Linked DNA regions of Homo sapiens. The protein of the gene in region 2 purifies or fractionates together with the protein of the main gene of each other region. This does not show direct contact. Each region holds a gene or a part of one and is shown on either strand. Other genes may lie near its edges.

Region 1 (10,643 bases), on a different chromosome or scaffold from region 2:
TTTTATGTCATGCGTGTTTTATATTTTCCCACAATAAAACAAAAGAAAAGAAAAAAACCTGACGATATAATTGTCTACCTAGAAAACCCTAAAGACTACTACAAAATCTCATAGAACTGATAAAAGAATTCAGCAAAGTTTCCTGATACAAAATTAATGTACACAAATCAGTAGCTCTCCTATACACCACCAGCAACCAAGCTGAGAATCAAATCAAGATCTCAACTCCTTTTACAATAGCTGCAAAAAAAGTAATAATACTTAGGAGTATACCTAACCAAGGAGGTGAAAGACCTCTACAAGGAAAACTACAAAACACTGCTGAAAGAAATCATAGCTGACACAAACAAATGGAAACACATCCCATGCTCATGGATGGGTAGAATCAATATTGTGAAAATGGCCGTACTGCCAAAAAAAATCTACAAATTCAATGCAATTCCCATCAAAATACCACCATCATTCTTCACAGAACTAGGAAAAAACAATCCTAAAATTCATATGGAACCCAAAAGGAGCCCGCATAGTCAAAGCAAGGCTAAACCAAATTTACTATTTTGAAGTATAGCTAAAATCATGTAGTGGGGACTATGCTAAGCTGTTCAAAGCCCCCCTTCAGGGCTGGAGGGCTTACTCCAGATGCTGGGGATGCCCTCCTTCAGCTGAAAAGAATGACCTCTCACAAGGCCAGGTTGCATTCTTGGGGTGGCTTGAATCGGGTGATCAGTCAATATGAGGATATTACAACTATTTTCAGACCTCTCAAGGTGGGGCTGAGGTTTTGTGGTGCCTGCCCTGAGGCCCAATTTCCTCTTCTTTATTAGTAACCTGTTTATTTCCCTTCCCACACAGATGTTGATCCTGAAAGTAATTCCTAATAAACTTTCTGCACAATTAAAAAAAAAAAGGGAAATGAAAACAGCACCTCTTCCTTGATGCTTTACTTCCACTGATGCCAGAAAAAAATCATCATAACAACTGCATAAATATATGATGGGTGGGATTTGCAAAACACCCCTTGAAGCTGTGCAGTGCACAACCCACACAAAGGAGCACTGGTTCTATGTCAACCTCTGTCTCATTTCTCCCGCGTTTGGGAGTCCCCAGCACCATTGAGCTGGATTGACTGATGAGTGCCCGCTAGTCTTTAACCAGTGCCTGAGCCAGCCTTGAACAGGGAGGAAGCACATCAGTTGCCCCAGCCCCGCCATGGGTTAGAGTTTGTAAGTAATTTCTCACGTCAATCAGATTTGGAACATGAGAAGCTAAGAGTGAGCTGGGAGGGTCCCGAGAGACTTTCACTCTTTAGCTTTGTGGGCTCAAGTTTACCTCCTGGTCCTTACACTTTCCTGGCTCATGCTCAGTTCTTTGGATAAGCCAGAGAATAAATAGATTAAGTTGGACTTTCTCAAAATTAAAAATGTTACTATATGGAAAAAACACTATAAACAGAGTGAAAAGGCAACCCATGGAATAGGAAAATATTTTCAAATCATATATCTGATGAGAGATTGGTATCTACCACATATAAAGAATTCCTATGACTTAACAATAACAGAACAAACAACCCAGTAAAACAAACAAACAAACAAACAAACAAAAACGGGAAGAAGATTTTCAGCCTCTCTTAGCCTCAGGTCTTAAGTTGTCTTAAGACCTGTCTCTTGTGTTGGTCTTAAGATGCTGTGCTTCTCAGACTCCATTTTGCCTGTATCAATAGTGAAATAAAGTTCTTAGGGTATCTGTGAGTCCTAAGATCAAACCTGGGGTCTCCATTGTCAATAACAATAGGAAAGAAGCTCTAAATTAGGGCACTATTCCAAGTTCATTTTTCAAGTTGTGTAAGTCAAGCTAGTGCATAAGGTCTTGGTGGTGCTGAGCAAGAGTTAACACCAATTTAACTTACTTTATAACCTGATAATAAAGTCCTCACATTAAAAGAGAAGAAAAGAAAACTGTCTTTTAAGCCTCCTTCTCCCACAAGCTTGCCTCCCTGCCATTATCCCACTACTCCTTCAACATCACACTGCTGGAGAGAGTAGTCCACACCCCTGGCTTCTCTCTCCTCCCCTCCCTTTCATTTCTGGGACCATGATGTCTCCTTTTCCCTCCATTCCATGAATACTGTTCCCCCAGGGGCCACTAAGGACTTTCCAATGGTCAAATTCAGGAAATTCTTTTAAATCTTCCTCTTTTTTGACCACCTCAAAGCTTTCTTCTTTAGGTTTTGTGACATTGTCATGTTTCAATTTTCTTTCTAGCTGTCTGTTTTTCAGTATTTCATTGATAAGTCCTTCTGCCTGTACCTTAAACATTGATGTTCTCTGGGCCCTCTCTGTCTGTCTTCCACACATTTCCACTTGGATGTCTCTGAAACATCTCAGACTTAGCATGTGCAGAGCTGACATCATTGCTTCTTTGCTTATCACCTGGTCTGAATCTGCCCCTCTTCTTCTGCTCCCTGTCAATGTTACCAGCAACTATTCAATTGCCCACACTGGACCCTTAGCGGTTGTCACTTTCTCAAGATCTGTATCACATACACCCGTATAGCTCCACTAAACAAAATGGTAATCCCTCTCCGCCCCAGACTCTCTGTCCCCTTATCTCTCCTTATTGCTTTCCTTAGCACTTATCACCATCTGTACACTACTAAATGTTTAAGGATTTATTCTCTGTCTTCCCCCATAAGAAGGAAATCCCATGAGGGCAAAGGCTCTACTTTGTCCACGGCTACATCCCCAGTGTCCAGAGCAGTGCCAGGCACTTAGTTGAGAATCCATAAATATTTGTTGAATGAATGAAAGGAACTTGGATTTCTTCCTCTGCCTCATACTTCCATCTTCACAACATACCCAGGTCCACCTGTTCTTATCTTATCTTGGAATTGCAAATCTGGGCTCCTTTTTGCCTCCTTTCCCACTGTCGCTTTCTTAATTAGTCCCTGTCACCCTATCCAGAGCTATCATGGCCTCCTAGCTTGTCTCCTTGCCATGGCTGTCTTCTTGGACCATTCTCTGCTTCCTCTCTAAAGAACTTTCTCTCTAAAGCACAGTCTGGAGTCTCCTTCCTCTGCCTCAATCCCATGGATGTTCACTTTGTAGATGCTCATTAATGTGTGCCTGACAGCCTGGGCCTCTCTCTGGGGAGAGAGGTCCAGTGAGGGCCACAGTTTTGTCCATTTTAAAATGAGGATCAGGAAGGGATTGAAACGCAACAGAGCTCACAGATGTAGGCACCGACTAGCGGAGATATACAGAATTGGAGACAAGTGACATATCCTGTTAAAAGAATTTGGGAGTGATACTGGGAGTGTGGACTGGAATGACTGGGGCAGCATTCTAGAATGAATCATTACAACAGAGATCAACAACCACACGGGGTAGGGAGGGGCTGGAGAGAGAGAGGGAAAAAAAAGAAATTCAGTCATACTCAAGTGAGATTGGATTTCCACACTTGCCTACATTGAAAAGCTAAAAATAGGGACATTTGGGGAGAAAAATAGTGAGGAGTCTTTTAATTCTACTGACAGGACTATAAGGAGGGAGGTTTGCAGGGAAGAATGTGTCTCTCACTCTTAGGGGCAAAATTGGAAAAATTTTTATTTTGGGGGCCCCAACCTTCACTCTCCCCACTCTACCCCCTGCCTGTTCTCTCTATCTTTCCTCACCATCAAAACCTCTTTTTTAAGGAAAGAGTCTGATAACATTCATTTACATAAATCTGTAATATTTAATGTGGTGATTTTAGATGTTAGAAGCAGAAGTCTGAAATCAAAGACACTTAAATACAGCAACCATTAAAAAAAGACGTATATAATTCACTGCATCTAGCACAGGGCTAAACCCAGTGGTTGCTCCGCAAATATTTGTTGAAAGATGTTCAAAAAAGCCTTATTTATATTATCAAACTCCACAAACAATATAAATATGCAAAAATGGGGAAACCATTGCAAAATCATCCATATGAAGAAATATTACATAGCTATAAAAATATCTAGAAAAGCTTTTTAATGATCCAGAGGAATAAATGCTTATACTGATGTTAGGCAAAATCAGCAGGATTCAAATTGCTACTATAATATGTCAATTATAAAAATCATATGCACATACAGAAGACAAAATCTATGAGTATCTCTGGAATCTGTGGGATTTGGGGTTATTTTTAGTTCTTTCTACTTTTCTGTACTTTTGAATTGTTTATACTTGGAATGAGAGAAATAGCCCAAAGTAAACGTTGTGGAAGATTTACTTGGGGGAAGAAATACTTTTCAGGGGTCCAAGCTAATTACACTGTACTGGTGTGGCCCACTTGGTCTATTATAGAGGAGGAAAGTGGGGAAGAGATGGGGCCTGTCCAATAAGGATGGATGTCCTGACAGTAGAGGATGGACTTTTAAAAACTGCTACAGCGGCTGGGTGCGGTAGCTCACGGCTGTAATCCTAGCACTTTGGGAGGCTGAGGTGGGCAGATCACGAGGTCAGGAGTTCGAGACCGGCCTGACCAACATGGTGAAACACCGTCTCTACTAAAAATACAAAAATTAGCTGGGCGTGGTGGCGCGCGCCTGTAATCCCAGCTACTCAGGAGGCTGAGGCAGCAGAATCGCTTGAACCGGGAGCAGAGGTTGCAGTGAGCAGAGATGGCGCCACTGCACTGCAGCCTGGGCGACAGAGCGAGGCTCCATCTCAAAAAAACAAAACAGAAACAAAACAAAACAAAACAAAACAAAAAACCTGCTACAGGAGTGGGGAGGCCGACCTTTGAAGAAAAACGGAGTACCCGGTAACATTAGTGCTTTAATGCCTTTGAACTTATGCAGACTTCCTCTGTTAGAGGGTTTCAGTGTTCTAGGCTAATGGGTTAACCTGACATCTAGAACACCTTTCTCACATTAGTTCCTTACATACCCAAGCCTTCAGGTGCTGAGACATGATTCTTTTCACCCCGCTTTCTCCACCCCCTACTTTTGAAAACACGGGTGGAATTTTAATTAAAGCCTATTGTGTTGGTACCTCAGTAATATTATACATTAATATCTTTAAGAATTAAGGTCACGTCCCCATGTAAGAAAATATTATTTAATGACGCTTCTATATCATAATACCTATATAAAAGCCTGGCTATTTTAATAAAGAGACCACAGATTTCAGAATTTATAAACAGGAAAACATTTTCTTCGGGTTATTTCTGGAAATCTCTTCCAAACATCGGAGTTTTCTTCTAACTTAAGTCTCTTCCCACCTCCTTCCCAGGGGATCTGCTGAAGGGTGTTGTATGTCTCTCTGTGGGAGAGCAAACTTCACAGTTAGGATAAAACAAACAAACAAACAATATCCAAACAACACCCAGCAACGGCAACCCCCATCCCTCTCCAAAGTTCTAATTTCCCGCACTTAAAGTCCTGGGCTATCCTTGTGTTGCAAGGATCTTAGAATCGAAATGGAGGGATTTGACAACTTTACCTAACCAAATCTAAAATTTTGCTTTTATTATTTACTAGTTATCAAAATATGCAAACTGCTGATTAAGGAAGGCTGGGTAGCAGGAGCGCCTGCGAAGGCGTAGGGTAGAAGTGTGAAAAGAAATCCCAGCTCTCCCAGGGAGACTGCGTGTGAAAGAGCCCGGCTCCCCCAAAAGCTCCAGGCCGCGTTTTGCAGGCTTCCGCATCTGCCTCCCCTGTCTCTCTTACCTCCTTGATGTTCGGCACTATTTGTGGCCGGCGTGGTGGAAGGACACAGTGAGGTTCTCACCCCCGCCCCCCGCTCCTCGCTCCCATCCCAGTTCCATCAAAACGAACCCGGGCCAGCGCAAGGATCTCCGAGTTGCGAGTGTGCTGAGGCTGGGACTGTCACTCATTCTCCGATCAGCGCGTGAACGCAGCTCGGCTGCCGCTGGCAGGAAACAATTCTGCAAAAATAATCATACTCAGCCTGGCAATTGTCTGCCCCTAGGTCTGTCGCTCAGCCGCCGTCCACACTCGCTGCAGGGGGGGGGGCACAGAATTTACCGCGGCAAGAACATCCCTCCCAGCCAGCAGATTACAATGCTGCAAACTAAGGATCTCATCTGGACTTTGTTTTTCCTGGGAACTGCAGGTACATTTTTTTTTTTTTTAATTCTCAATCTGGTTTGCTAATTACCCCTTCCTCCTACTCCTAGGAGGAACGCTATTATTTTGGGTGGTTTTACGTGGACTGCTAAGGCTGGTCATTTTCGTTTAGCTGTGAAAGGAGCGCGTCGCCCTTGCTGCCCAGCCGAACCCCGCTCCCTCCAGGGCTGCGCTGCACGGGGCTGCCTCCCCGAGCCGCCAGCGCCCGGCGCCCCTCCGGCGCGTCCGCCCTTCCCACTTTGTGCGCCCGCGGCGGTGGGAGCAGAGCCGGCCGGCTCCTGGGGACTCAGCGGCCGCGCTGGTGATGGGCAGCGCTCCTTCCCCAAAGGCGGGCGGCGGGGCGGGGGAGGTCGCGGCTCGGGTGGTGCCGCCGCACGGGCTCGGATTCCGAGGGGGAAGTGGCTTGTCAGCCCCGGCTCCGGGAAGAGTGAACAATAAGGCTAGGGCAGCCGCCCCAGATCGTTATATTCCTGGGTCTAATAAAGTCAGGATCGCTGCTTTGCTTCCCCCGCCCCAGAAGAATAACGGTTTGCAAAATGGGGCAAAATGGGCAGAATCGCACGGCCGTTGTTGTTGGTGTGACCGTTGTTGCACCCCAGTCGACATGACGTTAGTTTTTCATTTGCCAAATTGCTGGTTAGTTGCAAAGCCTACCCTCGGCCGCGAGCACTGAAGGATGGGAGGGTCGAGCGCCGCGTTTTGACAGGAGGAAGTGCGGAGGGGCGGAGGGCGAGGAGGGCGTGATTGGGGCTGCCTGGTGTGTGCGCGCGCGTGTGCGCGCGTGTGTCTTTACACGCGCCGCGTGCCCAGTGTTGCACGGGGCGGGAGAAGAATGGCAGGTAGCCGCCCGAAACACCTCGCCCTGTCTCCTTTCTTTGGGCGAGGTTCCCGATCCTGGCAAAGTGTGAACAATAGGGAGCTGGGAGGAAGACAGTAGTGATGCTGCCGCGGGTGGCGGGGGTTGCGCCGCCGCCCAGAGAACCTCGGCAGTGTGCAGGGAGGTGCATTTCATTTTGGCTATTTCCATCCCGGCCTCCCTGGAAAATTCTTCTGTGCGTGCCCACCCTCCCCTCCAGCTGTCATCCCCCCACCTCCACCCAAGGATTTGCGCTTTGGCTCTGATGGACGGGAGGGAAGGAAGAAAAGCAGGGGCCGCAGAGAGCTGGGTGGGTTGGGCGGACATTCTGGGCGGGGGGCGTGTGCTGGGAAGCGATCGAGGAAAGCCGGGCGGAGGGGCTGTGTGTCGCGGTCGCAGCTCCAGGTACCGTTGTACCTGCCCTGGACGGCCGACCCCCGGTTGGGGAGCGCACGGGGCGGGCCAGGGAGCACCCAGTGCGCCCCCTCCGCGGGCGGCACAAGAGCAGCGCTCGGCCGCCGCCTCCAGCCAACTCGGGTCCCTCCCACGGCGACCAATCAGTGCGAAGCTGGCTGGGCGGGAAGCCGCGAGAGGCTTTTATTGCGGCGCGGGTGGCGGCCAGGAGCTGCCAGGACAGTCTCCCGGTGCTTCAGCCTAACGGTCTCGCTCACTCACCGCCAAGAGAAACCCCGCCCTGCGGCCGGTCCCCCGCCTGCCCGGCAGTTTCCGAGGAAATAAAATGGAGACTAGGTGGTCACCGGGAGTGCTCCTGGTCCGGCCGCCCGTGCTCGCCCACTCTCGCCTCTTTCACGCCGACTTGGAGCATCCCACCGCCCCCGCCAGCGCTCACTCTCGCGCCGCGGAATCCGGGCCTGAGCGCGTCGCCGGGGAGGGCATCCTGGCAGGCACACCTACGCGCGTGCGCTGACCGGCCGACCGCGGGCCGGGGGCTCTACTGACGGCGGGGCGGGGCCGTGGCAGGGCCCGGAGAGGAGGGGTGGGGACCAAGCCTAGTCCGCCTGGCCCTGGGTCTCCGCTGCCACCTGGGCGGGGGCCACCCCGGTTATGCCCCTTTCCGCGGTGCCCGTGGGTGCCGCGACGCGACCTGTCCACATGGGGCGGGGGAAGGGGGGTGTTTTTGAGACATCCTCGCCCCCGGGTGGGAGCGTGACAATGGAGCCCGGATATTTGGTGGGCCTTTTGGGGGATCGCCTGGCGGTCCTTTCCATCATCGTGATGGGTACAGTCATCAGTATTTGGATCCCGTGGAAGTTGCAGGCCCAGGAATTCCCACTGGGATGTTCCTGGATGCCCAGGCAGGGGAGGCATTCTAACCAGTGTTCCCTGGAATGAAAGCGACCTCTTTCCTGGCCCGGTACCTTGAGGATGGGAAGAAGGCAGAACGTGAAACACATACAAGGTTGCTTAACAAAAGAAAGAAGTTGAATGGTTTTCCAAAGAGAAATAATTTCCCATTAAAATGTCTTTTGTACCATAGTTTTTTTTTAAAAAAATCAAAGAATTCAAGTCAAAGGGTTAGAATGAAAATGAAAACATAACAACAAGTATATATACATATGTATATATATCTGAGGTTTTTTTTTTGTTTTTTTTTTTTTTGTTTTTTTTTTGGACTCAAATGTAGCATGTCCAGGGCAGTGGTAACTGAGTTTGTGTGCTCGGCTGGGTGCATATGAAAATTTACATATAAGGCAAGCTAACCTTAATACGTCAAGTGAGTCCGATGGGCTGCCCCTCTCCTCTTTCTGTGTCCTCTGCTCTTTAGAAATACAATGAAAGGTTGTGCAATTGCATAGTAAATTTGAGTTTATTCTAGTATAAATTTTGGATGTTTTGAAGAATTGTTCGCTTGAACGATCTGGAATGGTTAAGTCACATGTTTACTTGATAATTTTGCAGTCTTCTGCCAGTTAAACTTGCAAGAGTCAAGGAATGGATAGGACTGGGTTTCTAACAAGATACCATCGGTTAAGAACAAAGAGCTACTTTACAAAAGCTAACATTGAAATCAAGTAGTATATATAATATCTCTCACTAAGCAAATTAAGGTGCGCTTCCACAAAGTTGACTGTGAGCACAGTTATAGTGAGCCATATATTTTTGTTGATTTTCATTTGAAGACTGAGAATGTGTGTTTTTAAACAGAATTTCACTGAATGTAATAAAGGCTATATAAGAATGTGGAAAACCTTTCACAACTCTAACCAAACCCTAGAAAGATTATTTTCTTTCAATAAATACTAGCATATTTAGAAATATTAATAACTGATAATTTGTTTTAAATCCAACAGAGTTATTAAAAACAGGGAATATAATCCAGACATTGTAGACGTGTGGGCTATGATTTATGTAAGTTTTTGAGTTACTATTCCCTCTATAAAGGTCTTAAAGATCTGCTAACCTAGCTAAGCTTCCATTAGTCTTTAACTGTTTTCTTAAGTTAATGCTTTATGAACGCCCTCTTTCTTTCCCTAAATTGTTGAACCTGATAACTTCCTTCCAGATACCTTTATCTAGGATTTTTTTTTTAAAAATGGAATACCAGAAAATAGCAGGACATATTCTTGTTTAGTAAAGGAGTTTCCTCTAAGTCTTACAATGATAATTGATTAAACTAAGAATATGTTGATTTAACTGGTGACTGGTTTCTTGAGTTTGATAGTTCAAGAATTAAGATAGTAATTGCAAAGAAAAAAAAATCCCACATCAAAACTGAAAAAAAAATGATGTGGGTGTGCTATTTGTAAGGGATGTGGGTGTTTACTGAAGGCAGCAATAAGAAGGAGAAATTAGTCTGTAGCACCCCCAAATTCCAAGTTTTGAACAGTGCTTCTGTTTGGAATCCATTTATCATTAATTGAATTCCTCAGATAGGTAATATGTAATTTAATGGAAGTAACCTATATCTGTATTTTTCTGTCACAAGGAACAATGTCTTAATTGCCTTTCAAAGTAAACAGCACCATTTTGTCACTCAAAAGCTAATCTTTAGACATGTTTTTGTTCACTACAGAACCCAGTTTCTCAAATTATAGAGAGCATTTTGTAAAATTTACACTGCTTAAATAATGGACTCTGGAATTTCTGATGCAACCACTTAATTTTTCAAGGTGATGAAGCCTCTGTTAAGTATGAGTTTGATAAATTTCTCATAATTTTGTCTTTAGTATTAAAGAACTGTGGCTGCTCTCCAGACTGAAAGTGGCTTCAATACTACTGGCAGGCTTCCAAAGACATTTTACAGACAGTCCTTTCTGACTTAGTGTAAAATAAGTGATTGAGTACCTGTTGCTAAAGAACGGGTTGCACTTTTAGGATCTTGAGCTTGTGATGGAGAGCAGAACCAATTGGCAGGCCAGGGAGAGAAGGGATCGCACCTGCCCCCGTCAGTCTGCGGGAAGAATCATAGACTAGGAGGAGACAAAGACATCTTATAAAGGCTCTCCTGCACCAGTTCAGCATTGCTTTTTTGAGCACACACATGTTTTCTGGTGTCAAGATAAATATTTTAATGTAAATTCCATAATTGATCATTTTTCAGTTTAGCAGTTATAACATATAGACTAAGGAATGTCTGGAACTTTAAAAGAAATGGCAGCACATTACAGGGAGCATTTTACTGATCTTAAAACTGGGTTACAAATTACACAAAAT
Region 2 (10,477 bases):
CCGTGCAGGGACAGTCTTTGTGCCCCTTCCTCCCTTCCTCGTTTGTGTGCATCTTCCTCCCTTTTCTCAAGATGCAGGAGGTCACATGGATGTCCCTTCTTGGCTCACAGCAAATGGTCCACACTGGTTCATGGGATCCCCTTCACTTTTTTTTTTTTTTTTAATGAGACAGAGTTTCACTCTTGTTGCCCAGGCTGGAGTGCAATGGCATGATCTCAGCTCACCGCAACCTCTGCCTCCCGGGTTCAAGCAATTCTCCAGCCTCAGCCTCCCGAGTAGCTGGGATTACAGGCACCCGCCTTCACGCCCAGCTAATTTTGTATTTTTAGTAGAGACAGGGTTTCTCTGTGTTGGTCAGGCTGGTCTCAAACTCTCTACCTCAGGTGATCCACCCGCCTTGGCCTCCCAAAGTGCTGGGATTACAGGCGTGAGTCACCGCGCCTGGCAACCCTTTTTATGTGCCTTTACATGACTTTTATTCCCACACCCCACTCACATTCTCCTTCCTCCTCAAGGAGTGTCACTTTTAATATTTTAATGTGCAACTTTTTGTTTGAACATGTTCTTCATATAAACTCCGTATTGTTACTTTGCATGATAGGCATATATTTTTTACATAAATTGTTAGATAAAATCTCATTCTGTTTTGCACTTTTCTTCACCTGGCATCATGCTTTCAAGTTCCACTGTGTGCACCCTTAATCTGTTGCTTCCAGCAGCTGCAGAGAATTCCACGAGGTGCAGCTCCCACCTCTCTCCAGGTTGTCTTCAACCCCTGCCACCTGTCCAGGGTTTGCAAATTCTCTGGTTTGCTCTCCTCACAACCCTAAGACATAGGCTGAATAGGGACTATTCGGTCTTTTTTACAAAGAAGAAAGCCTGAGGGAATCAGGTCTGTCCTCTGTGCCAAGGCCAAATCTATGGTAGCGACTGCCTGGGTTGTTCTGAGAGAAGTTCTGAGGCTGAATTGAGGCTCAGGAGGAAGGAGCATGCCTTGCTGTGCTGCATTTGCTGTGTCTGCACAGGCCCGGCATCACCCAGCCAGGATGAAGTCTAGCCTCTTCCCCTTTTCTGGGGCCCTTTCTGCTACCTGATCTGGCCTGGCATCTGAGGCCCACACTGGGGGCTGAGCTGGGGAGAGTACACCAGCCCGGTATAAATTGGCTTCCTCTGCCAGACTTCCTCCTAGGCATGTTGACCTTACTTCAGGGTATGATAGCCCAAGAGCCTCTGACCCAGGAAATTCTGCCCCATATCCACGCCCCAGGCCATCTTTCACCTGTCTTCCTTTTTTTTTTTTTTTTTTTTTTTTTTTAAAGATGGAGTTTCACTCTTGTTGCCCAGACTGGAGTGCAATGGTGCAATCTCATCTCACTGCAACCTCCGCCTCCCCGATTCAAGCGATTCTCCTGCCTCAGCTACTCCATGAGTAGCTGGGATTACAGGCATGCACCACCACGCCTGGCTAATTTTGTGTTTTTAGTAGAGACGGGGTTTCTCCATGTTGGTCAGGCTGGTCTTGAACTCCCGACCTCTGGTGATCCACCCTCCTCAGCCTCCCAAAGTGCTGGGATTACAGGCGTGAACCACTACACCCAGCTCCTGTCTTCCTTTTTGAGATGGCTTTTATTTTAGGCTCCAGAACAGCTGGAAAGAGCACTACACTGTCCTTGGCCTCCCTGCTGGGTTGCACCTTTCCTCTTTGCCCCCTGTGGTCATAGGTGCGGAGGCCAAGGGGGCCAGCAGTGAGGAGGGCTGGGGCATAATGCAGCACAGCTGGTCCTCTCAGCCTGGGACAGCCAGAACACTCCCCACTGCCTCCCTGGGGCATGGCAGGGGACGTCATCACCTCTGCTCATGGAGAGTGGCAGAGCCAGTGCCAAAGCAAATCATCCCAAATGCTTTTCTACCTGATGCTGGGCTGGGAAGATACTCCAGGCCCAGAAGACACTGCCATCTCCCTGCAGACCCTGCCAGCTTCTTGCATTCCCAGTTCTGAGGCTGCCCTGAATAATTCACCAGGGGAGGTCTAGGCAGGAGGCCTGGATTCTGGGCCTGGGGGCCTCAGCCCAGTGCACAACCTCTCTGAGCCTGCTTCCTCCACTGGGCTCACCTCTAAAATGGCAACACAGACTCTTAGAGGCAAAGGGACGCCAGGGCCACCTAAGCCCGCTTCCTAGCCAAAGCAGGAATCCCTCCCTCGAACCTGACCATCCAGCTTTGGCTTGTGTCCTTCCAATGTCAGGGACCTCACTACCTCCCAAGATGGCCCATTTTGCTCCTGGACACTTGCAGCATGACAATGCGCCTTCTCAGGAGAGACAAATTACAAAAAGAACAATGATAACAGCTACTATGCACTGGCGCCAGGCATGGCCATAAGCACTTTCACATGGCTGGTTTCATTTGAAGCCTCACAACAACTCTACAAAGGGGTGTCATTCCTTGTGTAGATAAGAAATCTAGGGTGCAGAGATGGTAAATAGCTCGCCCGGGTCATGCGGCGAGCAAGTGGCTACCCCCTTCGAACTTCACCCCACTGGTTCTTGCTCTCTGCCCTCTGGGTTTTACTGAATTGAGGCCCCTTTTCCATCTAAGGGGCAGCTTTCATCTGAGGCTTGGTAGATGATGAGCTGATGCAGTGTGGAGATGAGACTTAACTCTGTTTTGTATCCCTATTTCTGGGGCAGTGTCCGGCAGATCAGAAGCTGTAGATGCTTGACAAAGCCTGGATGGTTGATGAGTGAGTGACCATGGGCACTGGCCCCGGAGTCAGAAGGCCACGCTCTACTGCAGCCCAGCATGGGTGACCCTGCACAGTCCCCTTCTCTGGACCTCTGTCTCTTCACCAGTAAAATCACTGGGTTTGACTGAAAGATCCCTGAGGTCATTTCCTGTCTGGCCTTTTGGGATTCCATTCCTGGGGGGGGGTCCCTCGGGGGGTAACCCCTCCCTGAGGTGGCCATCACCCCCACAGCCGAGCCTCCACCTCCCCAACCCTGCCCTGCTTCCAGCAGTGACAGGGTTAAAACATCTCCCAACAGAAAAGCCACAGTCTTAAGACCTGCGAAGGGCCAAGGGGACACTGCTGAGAGGGAGGAAATGGACGGAGCCCTGAGCTGCACTTGGCTCTGAGCATGAGTTGCCATTCCCAGGCAGCCGCAGGCCTCATGCCTTCCTGTTGATGGCTAAGACCCCCGGGCATCAGATGGGGTCTGTCAGGACATGGGGCTTATGGCCAAGGTGTCCCCTGCAGGCTGCATAGTCACAGGTGGCCAGACATCTCTGTTTATAGATTTAAGGGCCACGCAGTCACCAGACAGACATTGTGGACATAGATTCCCACCCTTCTCACCACAGCGAGGCAGAAGTGGTGATCCAGAACCGTCCCCCACCCCCCCACCATCAGTCCTGGGCAGCTGCTGTGCTCAGCCCCTGAGACCCAAGGCCCCTGGCATCCTCCCAAGGAGCAGCCTGGGAAACTGTGTGCCCCCACCCTCCATGAGCCTGAAACCCGTGCTGGTGGATCCGATGTCGGGGGGTCCCAAACACGGCTGCATCTCAATGAAAATCACACTTCTGGGTCTCACCCCAGACCTACTGAAGCCTCTGCGGATGGGCCCAGGACTTTGCATGTTTAACGAGGTCCCCAGGTCAGTCCCAATACCAGCAATCCCACGATGGGCGTGTGACACCAGAGTCAGACATTGGAGGCAGAGGTGTGGTTACTGTAAGGTCCTGGTCACCACAGGAACAAGAACTCAGAGCTAGCATGGCCCTTGGTATGCAGAGGCTGGGGGTGGTGTGAGGTACATGAGAGGTCAGAGATGAGAAGGAGACAGCAGAGTGAGAGAGAGGACAGGCAATATTCAGGCAGGGAAGAGGGCCCGTGAGAGCAGTAAGCCCCGGGTGAGAAGACAACACTTAGGTATCAACAGGTATGCCTCCCCGGAGTCTGAGAAGACAACACAGAAGGCTCCCGGGGCCCAGGTCCAGTTGTGCCTGCTGCCTCCAGGCTTTGCCTAGACACTAGCCCCCAACTACCCCCAATTCCCCAGACAATCATATGGAGGAAAGGGGACCCTTTGGTGCAGGTGACCTAGCCCTGTCCCTGATCAGTCACCAGGCTGGTTTCCTGGCCGGGCCTGAGGGGTGCTCCGCCCCTTGGCTGACCTGGCATGATCTGATGGACACCCCGTTGGTGGCAGGTCCGTGGGGCCAGGGCCAGGCTGCATGCCACACTGCGGACTGGGCCTCTCTCAATGAAAGCGAGGCCCAAGGAGTGGGAAAGAGGGGAAGTAAAGTGACACCTACCTGAGCTGCTAGCGCTCTCAGAAGCACTCCTGGACATCTTAGGCTGGCCGTGTTTGCCGCTGGCCCGCCCAGACCCCGGTGGTGGGGGGCCCGAGGGAGCAGGGGCGCCGTCTCCCCTGATGGTGGTGAGGTCCTGCATGCTGAAGCTCCGCAGTCTCTCCGATAAGGCACCCTGTCCCTGGATACAACACAGGAGGGGCACACGTCAGAGGTCCTGCTCCACAGGTCACACTCGACAAAGGCCAAGAGGGAGCTCTGATGGTCAGCCAGGTGGAAATCAAGACCTGGATCAACTCTGAGGCGCAGGTGCCCAGACATAGCTGCTGGAAACACAGAGAGGGTCAAATCCCGGAATTTTCCAGGGCCTCCTCTGGGGCTCAGTAATTGCTCCTTTGGCTCCAGGATCCCTCCCTACCCTCAGACACCACTATGATGATACGATGATACGATGATGATCCGGAGCCTCAGACAGACCCAGGGCCAAGGGCGTGACTACTGCCTGCAGCTCCTACTCCTTCCAGGCCACCTGCTGCTTCTCTTGCTTTGCATAAATAAAAATCCACATGTATCTCCATTTTTCTCAGTACATGAGAATCTGGTCAGGCAATCAAAACCTAATATTCTATGTGCTTGGTTCTTATTATTTTCAAAGGACACAAAATACAGACAATATTTTTCTAAATGTTTGACAACAGAAATTTCTTTTATTTGTATAGCATATTACTGTCTACGAGGCACATTTACTTCTGCTGGTGCATTTCAGCTTCATAAAATACCCAAAAGGTAATGAATCAGAAAGGAAAAAAATGATTTAAAAAAACCCTGCTGATTGTAACCATTTCATATTCTGAGGGAGACAGAGAATTAATCTCGGGGGGAATTGTTCTTTTATTTAGAAAGCAAGATCAATCCATTTTACTTACGAAAGAGCAGCTCCTCACTGTCTGGATGAGAGAATGTGTCAGAGTGAAAATGATCACAGTGAAGGCTCAGGGATGGTGGCATTGCTTTAAGTGTGCCTCAGGGGCTGCAGAGAGAGGTTATGGAAACCTGAGAGTGGGAGGAGACTGGGGAAATTGAGAATCGGCTAGGATTTGGAGCAAGAAGTGACAGGCAAGTAACTACCAGGCAAATGAATGAACTCAGACATCTTCAGAAAGAAGAAAGCCTGGAGGGTGTGCAGGGTTCCCTCGGGTGCATGGCACTGCAGTGGCATGGGAGAGGTTTTCTATGCCACTTGGATAATGAAGGAAAGAGTGGTCCCAGAGATCTGGGGGACAGGGGGACAATACTGCACAACAGACATAACAGAACCAACAAATCAGCACAAAATCAATTCAAGCCGCTGACAAGAGGGCTGCTGGTGGGATTGATGAAATAAGCAAGGGCCAAAACAGTTGAGTAAGAGGTTTTCAGGGGTGAGAGAAGGGTTTGGAAGATTTTTTTCATTTTACTTAATATAAAAAATAATGAAAATGAACCAACAAAGCACAGCAATTCGCTGAAGTGAAAAATCCAGATAGGATCAAGGAGCAGACGCAAAATGAGTTCATTAGAGGGGAGGGGGAAAAAAAGGGGCTTGCAGTCAGGTTTAGAAGAAACGCCAGAAGAGGGCAGGCGTGGTGGCTCATGCCTGTAATCCCAGTACTTTGGGAGGCTGAGGCAGGAGGATTGCTTGAGTCCAGGAGTTCGAGACCAGCCTGGGCAACAAGCGAGACCCTGTATCTACAAAAAATTTTAAAAACTAGCTGGGCATGGTGGTATATGTCTGTAGTTCCGGCTACTCGGGACACTGAGGTGGGAGGACCGCCTGAGCCCAAGAGGTAGAGCCTGCAGTGAGCCGGGATCATACCACTGCACTCTAGTCTGGGCAACAGAGTGAGGCCCTGTCTCAAAAAAATAAAAAGAAAGAAAGAAGTGCCAGACTAAAAGCAAGATGCACTAAAATATGAACTAGATCTGTTCCCAACCTACCAAAGATATAAAAACCATGTCACCAGGAAACCAACAACAATAACACAAAGAAAACTATTTAAAAAGAATTGTAAGTCCAGGCCAAGAAGTATTTGGAGGATATTATATGAAAAAAGACAGAAATCACCCTGGTTGCCTCAGACACTGCTCTAGAGTGATGGTTGGGCAAGGGTCCAAGGTCTCACGTCCTTGGCAGGAACAGCTGGGTGGTCTCTGCCAGCAAAATGGAGGCTGGACCAGCCAGACACCCATTATATAACCCCTTCAAATATAGCAGCCAATGATCCATGATTATTTTACGCAGAAACATTCTAGGCAGCATCTAGAATTTAGAAGAAATTTGATGACTAAGGAACAAAACTTGATTCTGAAATGAGTGAGAAAATATTCTGCTAATTATAAGTGAGTAACTCAATGTTAGGTTAGTGTTCAAGCAAACTGTTCACTGACTCACTCTTTCATTCATCCTCTCATTTCTTCGTTTACTTTACTTGTTCAACAATTACCAAGTACTTTTTATGGGCAAGAACATGGTGCTAGGTGCTAACATGAAACACCAAAAATACAGTTTGATTTCTGAGAAAGCGGAGAACGACAAATGTACAGATACAACACAGAAGTATCCTAGCAGAAGCTACAGAAAGTGAAGATTGAGAACAGCAGTTCTTGAGTCAGGCCTTGATTCAAATTCCAGCCCTGTCATTCAACAGCTGAGTGATCTTAACCTCTCTCCACCTCAAGACCTTCATTTGCAGAAGAGGATCCAAATGGCCGGCTGCTCGTGCGGATTCAATGAGATTACATCCTTAAGATACCCATCACATAGCCCATTGCATATTTAGTCTTCAAAAATGTCAACTATGATGATAATGATGTTGATGCTGTGGCTACTGCCTAAGATACAAAGGTTGCTATTGAAAGCTATTGAAAGCTGCCTAAGACACAAAGGTTGCTATTGAAAGCAGAGGTGGAAAAGGTCACTTCCTAAGCTTCATGACCCCAAGCCCAAATAAACGGCCAGGGACGAATTCCCTCAACACAGTTTGCCAGTTCTTGCTCATTGTCGCTCAGCAACATATGTGAGAGAAAGCAACAGCAGGCATCGTACACGTTCATTTTAGCAAAGTGCTCCATTCAACTCCCAGAAGCCAGCCAGTCTAGCTCCAATATCACACTGGCAGTGGCAGAGGTTAGGAAAGAGAGGGAGATAATAATAGCTCAGTATCAACCTAGGCCTGTGTCAGAGGAAATTATAGTGGCATAGATACAAGACTCCTGAAAACAAATTAGCCCTTGCCCATCAAAACACTCTGAGATGGTTAAAATCAGTATGCCTGACCGGGCGCGGTGGTTCACGCCTGTAATCCCAGCACTTTGGGAGGCCGAGGCAGGTGGATCACTTGAGGTCAGGAGTTTGAGACCAGGCTGACCAACATGGTGAAACCCCATCTCTACTAAAAATATAAAATTAGCCAGGCGTGGTGGTGCACGCCTGTAATCTCAGCTACTTGGGAGGCTGAGGCAGGAGAATCTTTTGAACCCGGGAGGTGGAGGTTGCAGTGAGCCAAGATCATGCCATTGCACTCCAGCCTGGGCAACAAGAGCAAAAACTTCATCTCAAAAAAAAAAAAAATCAACATGCCTCTCTCTTTTGTAAACCTTTCAGCCCTTCTCAGTCTCTACACAAAATCTCATTCCTATTCACTTTCCACAAACCCCATTCCACACTGTCTGTTCAGCTCCGCTCTGCAGAATCTTTGTTATTCTAGACCATTGTCTTCTGGGAAGAACCACGAGTTGTTCATTGGTATTCTGCAAAATTGGTTTCCCTACTTTGGGGAAATAAATTTGGATTCTCTAAATTTGGAAAGCATTAATACCATATTCCCCATAATTCCATGAGCCACATTATCATACTAAAAGCTCTGAGAAGGCCCATCTGGTGGTGCATGCCTGCAATCCCAGCACTTTGGAGGATGAGGGGGGAGGATTTCTGGAGCCCAGGAGTTCAAGACCAGCCCGGGCAACATAGGTAGATCCCGTTTCTATTTTTAAAATTTAAAAAGACATCGCTAAGTCACCAGAATAATAATGACAACACCCACCTACTCCTAGACTTCTTGAAAATGATTTTCATCAATTTTTTTTTTTTTTTCGAGATGGAGTCTCACTCTGTCGCCCAGGCTGGAGTGCAGTGGTGCAATCTCGGCTCACTGCAACTCCGCCTCCCGCGTTCACGCATTCTCTTGCCTCAACCTCCAGAGTAGCTGGGACAACAGGTGCCCGCCACCACGCCTGGCTAATTTTTTGTATTTTTAGTAGAGACGGGGTTTCACCGTGTTAGCCAGGATGGTCTCGATCTCCTGACCTCGTAATCCGCCCGCCTTGGCCTCCCAAAGTGCTGGGATTACAGGCGTGAGCCACCGCGCCCAGCAGATTTTCATCAATTTTAAGACGTATTTTTCATCTCTGAAATTGGGGTGGGTCTTACAATTGCTGCCGCCCTGACATCATTGTCAACGCCTACACATAGATATACTTGGTTGTTATTCTCCCTGGCATAACTGGACAACTGAAGCCCCTGAGTGTTTAATTAACAAACCATTTAAGAACTGTTTGAGAAAGGAATATGAATCTCAGTTGTCTAACACATATCTCACTGACACTTTCTGGTATGATCAAGAAAGTGGCAGCATCAAAACTGGCATGAATGAAAATCCCAGAAACAACAGCTCGACATCACCCAACACACTAGAAGGAACAGAGAATGATATGGCATGGTCATAAGTGGATACTGACACGCCGAGCTGAAAAGTGATTCGGGAGACTCTGAAAGTGAAAAAGTGAGGTTAGAGAGATCTTAACCACTTATTGTGCTAATGCGTTCCTTTTTATTTTCTTTCTCTCTTTTTGTTTTTTCTGTTGTTGTTGTTGTTTGTTTGAGATGGAGTTTCACTCTTGTCAGCCAGGCTGGAGTGCAATGGCACAATCTTGGCTCACTGCAACCTCTGCCTCCCAGGTTCAAAAGATTCTTCTGTCTCAGACTCCTGAGTAGCTGGGATCACAGGTGGCCACCACCACGCCCGGCTAATTTTTGTATTTTTAGTAGAGACGGGGTTTCACCTTATTGGTCAGGCTGGTCTCGAACTCCTGACCTCAGGTGATCCACCCACCTTGGTCTCCCAAAGTGCTGGAACAGGTGTGAGCCACCGTGCCCAGCTGTGTTCCTTTTAATGTATTTATAAAAGTGACAAAAAAAAGATGTCTAAGAGTCTTTTTGATAAGAAGAAATAAACATTCTGGCTGGGCGCAGTGGCTCATGCCTGTAATCCCAGCACTTTGGAAGGCCAAGGTGAGTGGATCACCTGAGGTCGGGAGTTTGAGACCAGCCTGTCCAACATGGAGAAACTCCATCTCTACTAAAAATACAAAATTAGCCAGGCATGGTGGTGCATGCCTATAATCCCAGCTACTCTGGAGGCTGAGGCAGGAGAATCGCTTGAACCCGGGAGGCAGAGGTTGAGGTGAGCCGAGATCGTGCCATTGCACTCCAGCCTGGACAACAAGAGCAAAACTCTGTCTCAAAAATAGTAATAATAAATAAATAAATAAACATTCTAAGTGAAAAAACATTGTGTCCTAATTTAATTGGCAATATTATCTTTCTTAGTGGAACATAAGATAATGATGTGTCTCAGAAACCACAGCTTTTTAGATTCAATGAAATATGGTTGCACTTCTCAGAGCAGCTTTCTCTACTCATCCCAGTTCCCTGTAAATGCTGTCACTACAGCCTTTGAGCTGTACTTCTCTCTTGTACTCCACACAATGATATTTAAATATTGCTATTGTCTGTTTTATTCACTATTGCAGCCTTGGCATCTGCCACTCTACTTGATACATATTTGGGGTTAAGGAGTTGCATGAATGAACGTATGACCATTTATGGAGCTGCCGCCTGGGTGAAGCGTGACAGTGGGAAATCCCCACCTCAGCCTGATGCATCAGCCAGGGTCCCAGACCTGAAAGAGGATCCTGCTGAACAAGCCTTGAGATGTGTCTGCAAGGAGCGTATAAGAAGTGTCAGAGGGCTGTGGGTGCACAGGGCAGAAGGCACACATCAGAGAGGCAAGGCATCCCAGAGGAGACTGCGCTTGAACTTGGGTGGGTGGAGGACTTGGGTAGGTGA

The links.
Region 1: the proteins of REEP1 (region 2) and NCAM1 purify together in Homo sapiens (affinity purification with mass spectrometry; 2 studies listed by BioGRID and IntAct, with this or other methods). This does not show direct contact.

What each region holds. Positions count from the first base shown.
Region 1 is NC_000011.10:112,955,567-112,966,209, forward strand, and holds the start of NCAM1 (neural cell adhesion molecule 1 isoform 2 precursor), read left to right. Parts: upstream 1-5,853; 5' UTR 5,854-6,046; coding exon 6,047-6,098; intron 6,099-7,643; exon of another isoform or gene 7,644-7,894; intron 7,895-10,643.
Region 2 is NC_000002.12:86,228,311-86,238,787, forward strand, and holds part of REEP1 (receptor expression-enhancing protein 1), read right to left. Parts: intron 4,493-10,477; coding exon 4,315-4,492; intron 1-4,314.